Linked DNA regions of Homo sapiens. The protein of the gene in region 3 purifies or fractionates together with the protein of the main gene of each other region. This does not show direct contact. Each region holds a gene or a part of one and is shown on either strand. Other genes may lie near its edges.

Region 1 (3,659 bases), on a different chromosome or scaffold from region 3:
ACTGTACGGCCCCTGGCCTGCATCCTTTTGGTGCTTCCCTGCTTTGCTGTTTTCTGGTTCACTTGTCCCTCACCACTCAGCACACCTGCATGCCTGACCCACCTCCTGCCAGTCACACCTGGGCCACACGCTTAGACTATGGGTGTTTCCAAGGTGGAGAATAATAGGGGGGACCAGAACGCCCCAGAACTCCAAGGAGTCCGAGAGATCATCTGGCCCTGCTCAGAAATTATGTGTGTGTATGTATGTTTATGTGTGTGTGTGTGTGTATGCATGTGTATCCATGTATGTGTGTGTTGTGTGTATGAGTGTGTATGTGTGTGTTGTGTGTATGTGTGTGAACTAAAAGAAGCTAAAACACACATGCACACACATACATACACATACACACTCATACACAAACACACACATTCATACACACAAACACACATACACACACTGACACACGCATACACACACACATACACACATACACCCCCCACATAAACACATACACATACACAAATATACATACACACATATGCATACATACATACACGTAGATACACATACACATACAAACACCCACCCACATACATATGCACACATACACACATACATATACACACATACACACACACCTACACACATACACATACACACACATACACAAATACAAGTACATACACAAACACATATACACAGACACATACACATGCAAACACATGTACACACATATATACACATACATACACAGATACATATATACATATACATAATACACATACACACATGCATACACACATATACATAGACATACACAGATACATATATACATATACATACATACTCATAAATACACACATATACATACAGACATACACCCCAGCAACAACCACGACCAGCATTAGAATCTCGTCTCTTGAATAGTGGGGAGCAGGTAGCATAAAGATGGTGTGTGTTCAGAGTTCCTGGCTCAGACTCCCTGGCTCAGTGAGTGTGGTCAAGCCTCGCCTCTCTGAGTATTGGTTTCCTCATCTATAAAATGGGGATGCTCATGATTGGCTGCTGTGAGCCAGTGTCTGTGAACACACTGGCAGGGACTCAGAGGTTGGTGCCCTCCCCTCCACATGTGTCAGTGGCAGGCACATGAGGAAAGTTTCTTTCATTGAAATGGTGCTTGCTGCTTCCTAATATGTACAAGTGCTGGGGATATGGGTGAACAAAACCAACAGAAGAGTTGGGCATTTAGCAAAGAATTGAAGAATGAATGACAATTGAGATGATGCTGTGAGAGAACATCTGTATACGAGGGGAACCTGACCTCCTCTGGGGGTCAGAAAAGGCTTCCTTCATTCTTTCTACTCAAAGATTAGTATCACCCCAAGACTTGCAGGTGGTGATGACAGAAGGGGAAGAGCTGGCAGGGTGGTGAGTTTAAGACACACTCCCTGATATTCGGCCCATTTTGGGTTTACATCCGTTTTCTATACACTGTGTTCCCTGACTGTCTTCAGGAATGGTGGATTCGTCAATGATGCCTATCATGGGCTACCTCGTAGACCTGCGGCACGTGTCCGTCTATGGGAGTGTGTACGCCATTGCGGATGTGGCATTTTGTATGGGGTATGCTATAGGTAAGGACATTGGCTTTTCATAAGAACCTTTTACCTCAATACGTAATGGATAACGTCTACTAAAATTGTTTAAATCTTTGCATCTTTCAGTCTACAAGACATTTGGAAGAGCTTTATCTAATTCTCTGTTTCCTGAAAGGTCCTTCTGCTGGTGGTGCTATTGCAAAGGCAATTGGATTTCCATGGCTCATGACAATTATTGGGATAATTGATATTCTTTTTGCCCCTCTCTGCTTTTTTCTTCGAAGTCCACCTGCCAAAGAAGAAAAAATGGTAAGAAAAATTTAGGATGCAGTGAGCATTTCTTGATAATTTTAGCATGGCCTTCCTGATAGCTTCCTCATGGTTTCATTCTAAAGCCTTCAAACATAAATGGTGAGAATTCCTTTTTAGTTTGTACCACATAGAGCAGTTACTTCTTTTATTTTTTTATTACTGTGAAAGTTATTTCTTTCAAGCTTATGTTTATAAACTGGGAGAATGAAATTATTTTTGTACATAGATTAGCATCAGTGTTGCTCTTTTGTCGACCAAGTATAAACCTGGAATCATTCAATTTGATTTTCTATGGTTCTTGAAAATCTTGGACACAATCTTTCTGCCTCCTGTACTTATGCCCAAGGTTAGCCATTTGTGGTGCTGTTGCTTTTCTCATAACCCTTACAGCATTCAGTAATAGTTGCTGTCTTGTCTTTACTGTATGTAGGATTTTAGAGATGATTTTACGATTTTTATGGAAAAATCATTGTATATGGACTTTGGGGTATATGTGAACACACAGAACGATTTAATTCATAACTTTATGACCAAAATTATAGCCATAGGCAAGATACAGAGTATAAAGCATCCCTCTTTTGAAAAAGTCCAAATTAATTGATTCAAAATTTGAATTTTGAAATGCATGAGTCATTTTAACCTTTCTAAGGTATTTACCTTACCCAGCAAGGAGACGCTCAGTGTTTCTGATCATCTTTCTTATCTGGTGTTGCCAGTTTTTAAAACAGCAAATGCTGATAGGTACTTGTCCAGGTGAAAGGAGAGTGTCTTGGATTAAGGATGAATGAGGTGAACAAGAGGACATGCATTTTTGTGTTTGAATAGATGTGAGGTTTGTTTGTAATGTTCTCTTGGAAGTACATCAGAAGGTCTTTCTGACAGTGGAACTGAATGCATCTTAATGCTTTGGCATTTCCTGAACTGCCCTTTGATGCTTTTCCCCAAAAGGAGATTTAAAGACAAACCTTAAAATAAGGTTATGTGCAGCCTGTGTTTGTCTTGGGTGTTTTTTACATTCATTAATTCATTCCACATATTTTAAAATATATCAAGCACTGGGCACTGGCCTTGTGCCCTTTATTTTAAATAGGATTTAACTAGATACTTTTGAGTAATGCATGGCCCGTCTGACTCATGGAAAAGGTATGGAAGGTGCTGTGGAAATAACTCAGACAGAAGCCATCCCCTTGTCCTTCCCTCCGCTTGCTTAGATGCTTCCCCAGCTCTGAAAACCACATCACCTTCTCAGACCTCTCTTAGGAGACATCTGCTTTCCAGCTTGGGTGTGTAAATTTCAGATGCATCTTTGCTTGGCTGACCCTAGCATAATACCTTGCCGAAATGGAGTCAGAAAATTCTCAGCACAAATGCAAACTGCCATTCTGTTGCCATGATAACAGTTTAAGGCTGAATGGAGGTTACTCAATGTTTTTGACCAAAAAAAGTATATATGTGTGTATATGTGTTTGTGTGTGTCTGTGTGTGTGTGTATAAAATCACCTACAAATGCTCCTGTAGCCCAGGAAACTGTTTGAAGACTCCTGGGAGATAGTTAGGGCTAGCATGGGCCTGGGAGCCACACTGGCCCCACCATGTAGAGGCTTATGAGTCTTGGTTTCCTCCTCTGTTGCATGGAGAAATGATAACGTCTACCTCATAGGATTGTTGTGAGGATTAAATGAAAGAATCCCAACAGAGTGACTGGCCCTGTGGCTCAAAAAGTGTGTTCCTATTTCCAATATCACCCCACTCTTTCCTGCTTATCTA
Region 2 (3,659 bases), on a different chromosome or scaffold from region 3:
TGGCCAGCATGGTGTAACCCCGTCTCTACTAAAAATACAAAAATTAGCTGGGCATGGTGCCGCATGCCTGTAGTCCCAGCTACTTGGGAGGCTGAGGCAAGAGATTCACTTGAATCTGGGAGATAGAGGCTGCAGTGAGCCGAGATCGTGCCACTGCATTCCAGCCTGGGTGACAGAGTATGACCCTCAAAAAAAAAAAAAAAAGAATAAACTCCATGAAGAAAAAAATCTATACAGTAGTAGTAAAGGGAAGCAATACAAAGGAAAAAGAAAAAAAAAGACAAAGCAATCACTGGAATTTCCCAGGGCTGTTTTATTAAGAAACCCCAGCAATCAAATATTTTATTATACTACACTGGTATTTTCAGAAGGAAGCACACTGGCATACATGCCACCAAACAGCAGTCACTAAAAAAGGCATGTTTGATGTGGAGTGTGGAAACTTGAATAAAGAAGAAAAACAAATAATAGGAAAAAATAATTAAAAACTGAAAAAAATTTTAAATAATTTAAAAAGCATGTTATAGCCGGGTACGGTGGCTCATGCCTGTAATCCCAGCACTTTGGGAGGCCAAGGCGGGCAGATCATGAGGTCAGGAGATTGAGACCATCCTGGCTAACACGGTGAAACCCTGTCTCTACTAAAAATACAAAAAATTTGCCGGATGTGGTGGCAAACGCCTGTAGTCCCAGCTACTCGGGAGGCTGAGGCAGGGGAATGGCATGAACCCGGGAAGTGGAGCTTGCAGTGAGCTGAGATCATGCCATTGCACTCCAGCCTGGGCGACAGAGCGAGACTCCGTCTCAAAAAAAAAAAAGCATGTTATATTTTTATGTATACACACATGCTAAAGAGCAGCTGCTTAATAGATATTCACACTTAAAAGAGATGAAACCCTGAAATGTCTGTTTAAAAAAGATCATTTACAGTGTACACTGAGGTTAGGAGTCATTCTAGTTCAAATACGCCAGACATTGGTATTAAAATAACCAAATCTTCCCTGTCTTATCCTCTCATAAAGAGTTCAGGACCAAGGTGGTAGGAGTGCTTGAGACCAGGAGTTCAAGACCAGCCTGGACAAAGTAGCAAGACCCCATCTCTACAAAATATCCACATAAAAAAATTAGTCAGATGTGGTGGTGTGCACCTGTAGTACTAGCTACTAGGCAGGCAGGCTGAGGCAGGAGGATCCCTTGAGCCCAAACGTTTGAGGCTGCAGTGAGCTATGATTGCACCACTGAGTTCTAGGCTGGGTGACAGAGTGAGACACTCTTATTTAAAAAAAAATAAAAGACGGATGGACAGACAAACGGAAGGAAGGAAGGAAGGAAGGAAGGAAGGAAGGAAGGAAGGCAGGCAGGCAGGCAGGCAGGCAGGCAGGAAGGCAGGAAGGCAGGCAGGCAGGCAGGCAGGCGAAAGAGCCACCATGCTATATCATAACTACCTGTCTATGGGCCTGTCTCATTTGTATATCTCTAGTGCCTAGCACATAGTAGGTATTTAATAAACGTTGAATGAATGAACTACTACTTAGATCAGTCTACTACTCAGTGCTATTATTATTATTATTATTATTATTATTATTATTATTATCATTTTCGAGACAGGGTCTTGCTCTTGTCACCCAGGCTGGAGTGCAATAGCGCAATCTCAGCTCACTGCAACCTCCGCCTCCCAGGTTCAAGCAATTCTCTTGCCGCAGCCTCCCGAGTAGCTGGGATTACAGGCATGCGCCACCACGCCGGCTAATTTTTTGTATTTTTAGTAGAGATGGGGTTTTACCATGTTGGCCAGGCTGGTCTCAAACCCGACCTCAGGTGATCTACCCGCCTTGGCCTCCTAAAGTGCTGGGATTACAGGTGTGAGCCACCGTACCCAGCCTCAGTGCTATTATTTTACATAATTTTATCTAATCCTCATAACTACCCTGTGGGAAAGCTACCATTATCCTTATTTTACAAAGTAGGAAACTAAGAATCCGAGTGGCACACGAACAATCAATCTCTTTCACTTCCTCTTCCAGACATAAGCTCTAACCTCATTTTGCCTTGGCTAATGCTTTTTTTTTTGAGACAGAGTCTCACCCTGTCACCCAGGCTGGAGTGCAGTGGTGCAATCTCGGCTCACTGGCCTCACTGGCCTACCAGGTTCAAGTGGTTCTCCTGCCTCAGCCTCCCGAGTAGCTGGGATTACAGGTGCCCATCACCATGCCCGGCTAATTTTTGTATTTTTAACAGAGAAAGTATTTCACCATGTTGGCCAAGCAGGTTTTGAACTCCTGACCTCAGGGGATCTGCCCACTTTGGCCTCTCAAAGTGCTGGGATTACAGGCGTGAGCCACCACGCCCGGCCTGCCCTGGCTAATTCTTACTCTTCCAGTCTCAGCTTTAATGTCACTTCTTCAGGAAACTACTTCCCTATGCCAAAAACCAGGGCAGGTTCCTCATCACGCAGAATAAAATCCACACATCCTACCATGGCCTCCAGGCTCATGTGTACCTCTCCCCTAGATCACTCTGCTCCAGCCATAGGGGCCTCCATAGACATGGGAACATGAAGATGCTCCCACTCAGGGACTTTGCACTTCCTGTTCCTCTGCCTGTGATATTCTTCCCTAGACCCTCAAATGCCTGGCTCATTCATTAAGTCCACTCACATATTAACTCTTCAGAGTCTCTCTCCACAGTAATTTCCAATTCCATTACTCTTGGTTCCAATACTGTTTTATTTTCTCATCAATTTATCCCATTTTTAAATTACTTGTGCATTCAGGTGTTTAGAAGCTAGCTGTCCATTACCACTAGAATGAATACTCCACAAAGGTCGGGGCTTAGTCCCGCTCACTGCCTCAGCCTGTGTCTAGAAGTGCCCACCCGGTATATAAAAGACACCTGAAGAGTATTTGTTGAATGAGTAAGAGACAGAAGGCATGTGTTGCGAAGTCATCCAGTAAGCTTAATGTCACTCATTTAAGTCAATGAATGTATATTGGCAGATTTTAAGTCAAAATAAAGTTTCAGGTGCATACTCCTTTTGTGTGATGTTCTGCTTTAACTTATCTTTTCATCCAACATCTTCTAGTCTAGATCCCATCAGCGAGGAAGGCTTCTAATATGACTAGCCCAGAAGTTACACTGCACTCGACAGCAGTGAGGACTGGCTATTCCCAAGTTCTGCTCTAAACTACATGCCTTGCTAAGCTGCTGACACAAAGTCTAGAGTATTTGAGTTATAATTTGTGGATAATTATCATAGAAGTATCAAACCCAAGAAATGCCCAAATTTCTGAGGCTTTAGCAAAGCACTTCCTGTCCACTTGCTCATTTGCAGCATCTACTTGAAAGCCAGAATGATCAGTCATCAAAATATTGTGTTTTTAACACAATATAAAAATCATATTTAGACAATTTTTGATGTAAAACTCAGATTAGCCGAGCACAGTGGCAAGCATCTGTAGTCTTAGCTACTTTGGAGGCTGAAACGGGAAGATGGCTTGAGCCCAGGAGTTGGAGGCTATCGTGCACTATGTTTGCACTGGTGAATAGCCACTGTACTCCAGCCAGGGCAACACAATGAGACCTTATCTCAAAAAAAAAAAAAAAAAAAAAAAACTCGGATTATCATTTTTATTCCATTAATAAGAAATGGATAGGCTGGG
Region 3 (3,659 bases):
TATATATAATGACTGAATATATGAAAAAGTAGATTTTCCAAACCAAATGGAAAGGGTAGAGTTATCCCCCAACTGTTGATGATTACATACTATCCATTAAAAGTGACTCAGGACAAACTGCAAAGAACTTTTTAGTACATCAAATAATTTAAATGGCAGCAAACAAAACACTGAATTCATCAGAATCATGTAAAAACTTCTTTCTTAAATCTAAAGCAGCAAAAGCAGTTGAAAAATAAAAAACTTTCAATAGAAAATATCACATTTTTAAAGTGCCAACCGAAAATTAGAAAGTTAAAAAATTAATTTTAAAAATAAAAACTAAAACAATACTTTGGGAAAGACATATGAAATAGAACAAAAGATTAATACATGTATATATAATAAAATTTACTCATTAAAAACCACTGGAAAAATATTAAGACGCCAATAGTAATGGACAAAAACATGTATGGATGATTCATATAAAGCAATATAGAAACAGTGAACAAATCAGAAAAAATGTTCAAACGATAAAAAAAATTAAGTAAAAATTGAAACAACAGGACACCATCAAAATCACTGATGAGATTATGATAAAACTGATAAATTCATATACTACTGGTGATACTATGAACTAATATTATATTTTAGAAAATATAACAATAATTATCAAGAACCATGAAGAAATTAGCATCCTTCGATGTAATAATCTTACTCTTGGAAATCCATGTAAGAAATTCATCCTAAAGACATAATATTTAATAATCTTTAAAGTTACATGCAAGAATAGGTTCACTATAGTGTTACCTAAAAAAGGATAACTGAAAATAACCTAAACATTCATCTAAGTTTGAAAAGTGAAGTACATTATGAAGTCAACTGAAAAACAACTATGCTTGGGCTTAAAAAGATACTGATAAAGAATGGTTAACAGTATTGGAAATATGTTTCTGTCAAGTGAAAAAGTGGACTCTAGTATATATATTAGTGACATAAAATGTTCAAATATGGTATTGACTGGATGTCTGTGTCCTCCCAAAATTCCTAAGCTAAAACTCTAATCCCCAATGTGATGATATTTGGAGATGGAGCCTTTAGAAGGTGATTAGGTCATGAGGGTAGACTCTCACGATAGGATTAGTGCCCTTGGAAAAAAAGACAGGGGAGGGCTTGCTTCTTTGTGTCTCTCCCACCTTCCCCACCCCACCCCACCCCACCACCCCATCCCCACACAAAGTAGACAGTGCATAAATATTTCCTAAATGAATAGCCAGTGCTTAAAAAGCACTGGTTGAATGGATGAATGGTGCTTAAATAAAAGATTCTAAGTAATAACACTGTAACAAGTATACAACATACCCTCTACAAATGACAGTTCCCTTCGCCTTTCACAAAATTTAATGCCCTCATTCTAGGATTTTCCAGTCCTTAATTTTGACCATTACAATCTTTTGGCCATTTTATTATATCTCATTAAGTCTAATTCACATCTAATCATACTATTAAATGCTTATTTTATCCTTTGCTCTCACTTTCATGCAAATTTGTTGGTAAATGAGTATAGAAAATTTTATAAATGAAAATAAAATGGAATACCTTCTTACTGGTCATAGGATGGTCTAAGTGAAGAGTGCTTGTTCATACCACGTAACTCTCCTGAAAATCAATATGAACCTACCTCCAAGACCAAGGTCTTTGAGAACATGATAACCACCCGGCTGCAGGAATTCTCCAACTATTCTGTCAGGCTCTTTTAAGTCTCTCTCAATGACTGTCACCTTTCTTCCATCTCTGGAAAGCACAGCTGCCAAAGCAGAGCCAAGCACGCCAGCTCCCACGATGATAACTTCTGGGTCATTCTGAGAAGATGTTGATGTACAGGCAGCTGTTCCTATTAAGCTTGTTTCTGAAATATTGGTTCCTTTTCTGCGCTGTTTAAAAAAAAAAAGGTAAACTAGGTATCCAAATTTGTTAGATTCAAATCATGCTACCGCTATGTGGACACACTGGACTTTTGCATCCTAGGCTAAAGCTAGATACTAAATATTATCAAACCAAACAAATTGTTACATTTTAAAATCTAGATAATATATAAAAATCAATGATATCAAAATATTCGTTAAATAAAAGTGTGTCATATTATCCCAATAAAATTAAATATTTATTGTTTTCTAAACATGATATTTGGAAAATGTTATACAGACATATTTAGAAATCCACACTGGGCCGAATATAATAAATGTTTATAAGGGGCTTCAAAGACTTATTATAGGGCAAACTGTATCATTAATAACTAAATTCTTCAAATATATCCTGGGAATCGACAAGATGCAAATCACTTACAACTTCTGATTTGAGTTCATGTTACAAACTATTCGGCACCTTTTAGACATTTTCTTTTTTTTGTTTGTTTTTTTGTTTGTTTGTTTGAGACTGAGTTTCACTCTTGTTGCCCAGGCTGGAGTGCAATGGCGCAATCTCGGATCACTGCAACGTCCGCCTCCTGGATTCAAGCAATTCTCTGGCCTCAGCCTCCCGAGTGGCTGGGATTATAGGCATGTGCAACCATGCCCGGCTAATTTTGTATTTTTAGTAGAGACTGGGCTTCTCCATGTTGGTCAGGCTGGTCTTGAACTCCCGACCTCAGGTGATCCTCCTGCCTCAGCCTCCCAAAGTGCTGGGATTACAGGCGTGAGCCACTGCGTGCGGCCTTAGATATTTTCATTATTCATCTTTATTTTCTCTTTCTGGATTTTCATTTGAAAAATCTATGTTAATTTAATATCACTTTTATATGACAAAAGGATTGTCAAATCCTGCCTACCAATCTATTAATTGAAGATTATCTAAATAAACAAAATTACAAGAGAAGAAATAACTCATACCGACTCTTAGATTTGACTTGTTTACAATTTTGGTCCTTAACATATAAGCACATATTTAATTTATCCCTCCTTTTTCCCCATCCTGATACTCTAAGAGATCCTAGTCAAAGAGGTGGTCCCCAAAAAAGGAACAAGGAAAAACATTAAACCTGTCACTGGCTGAACTGACAGCAAAACTTTAACTTTGATCATAAAAAGATGCAAAGTCTTGTTTTGAGAGATTTATGACCACTAAGAACAACAGTGCACAGTGGCTTTTTAAAATGAACAATTCAATTTTGTAGTATTTCTTCTTGGTAGATGGATTCACACATTTGAATACATTTCAGATACAGAATTGCAAGGAACCACCTTCCTTGAGTTCTTTGACCTTAATGATTAAGATAAGACTAAATGCCATTTGAAGGGGTTTTTAAAAAATAATCAAGCAAAAAGGAAGACGAAGCCTAAAATCCTTTAGAACTTTACTCTGTGATTCTAATATCCACCCAGCATTCTTTTACCTCTATAGTGGACTGGGAATTTGTCTATTCTTTTTTTTTTTTTAATTTCTCTCAGAAAAATACTTTTCTGTCCTTTTACTATGGGAAGATCTCAATATTCTACTCTTCCCATTAGTATGTCTTAATGGCCAGAACTGACTATATTTAAATTACTGTAGGGGGCAAGACAAGCCCCTTTTGTCATCTTAACCAAAAATGTGCTTCTTCATAAGTTTTTCCTGTTTTATATACACACACACACACACACACACACACACACACACACACACCCTGAAAGGAGAGCTCTGGA

What was found.
Region 1: the proteins of SQLE (region 3) and SLC18A2 purify together in Homo sapiens (co-immunoprecipitation; one large-scale study listed by IntAct). This does not show direct contact.
Region 2: the proteins of SQLE (region 3) and GPR107 purify together in Homo sapiens (co-immunoprecipitation; one large-scale study listed by IntAct). This does not show direct contact.

What each region holds. Positions count from the first base shown.
Region 1 is NC_000010.11:117,268,575-117,272,233, forward strand, and holds part of SLC18A2 (synaptic vesicular amine transporter), read left to right. Parts: intron 1-1,496; coding exon 1,497-1,616; intron 1,617-1,755; coding exon 1,756-1,889; intron 1,890-3,659. UniProt on the Homo sapiens protein: Electrogenic antiporter that exchanges one cationic monoamine with two intravesicular protons across the membrane of secretory and synaptic vesicles.
Region 2 is NC_000009.12:130,060,356-130,064,014, reverse strand, and holds part of GPR107 (protein GPR107 isoform 3 precursor), read right to left. Parts: intron 1-3,659. UniProt on the Homo sapiens protein: Has been proposed to act as a receptor for neuronostatin, a peptide derived from the somatostatin/SST precursor.
Region 3 is NC_000008.11:125,001,430-125,005,088, reverse strand, and holds part of SQLE (squalene monooxygenase), read right to left. Parts: intron 1,914-3,659; coding exon 1,661-1,913; intron 1-1,660. UniProt on the Homo sapiens protein: Catalyzes the stereospecific oxidation of squalene to (S)-2,3-epoxysqualene, and is considered to be a rate-limiting enzyme in steroid biosynthesis.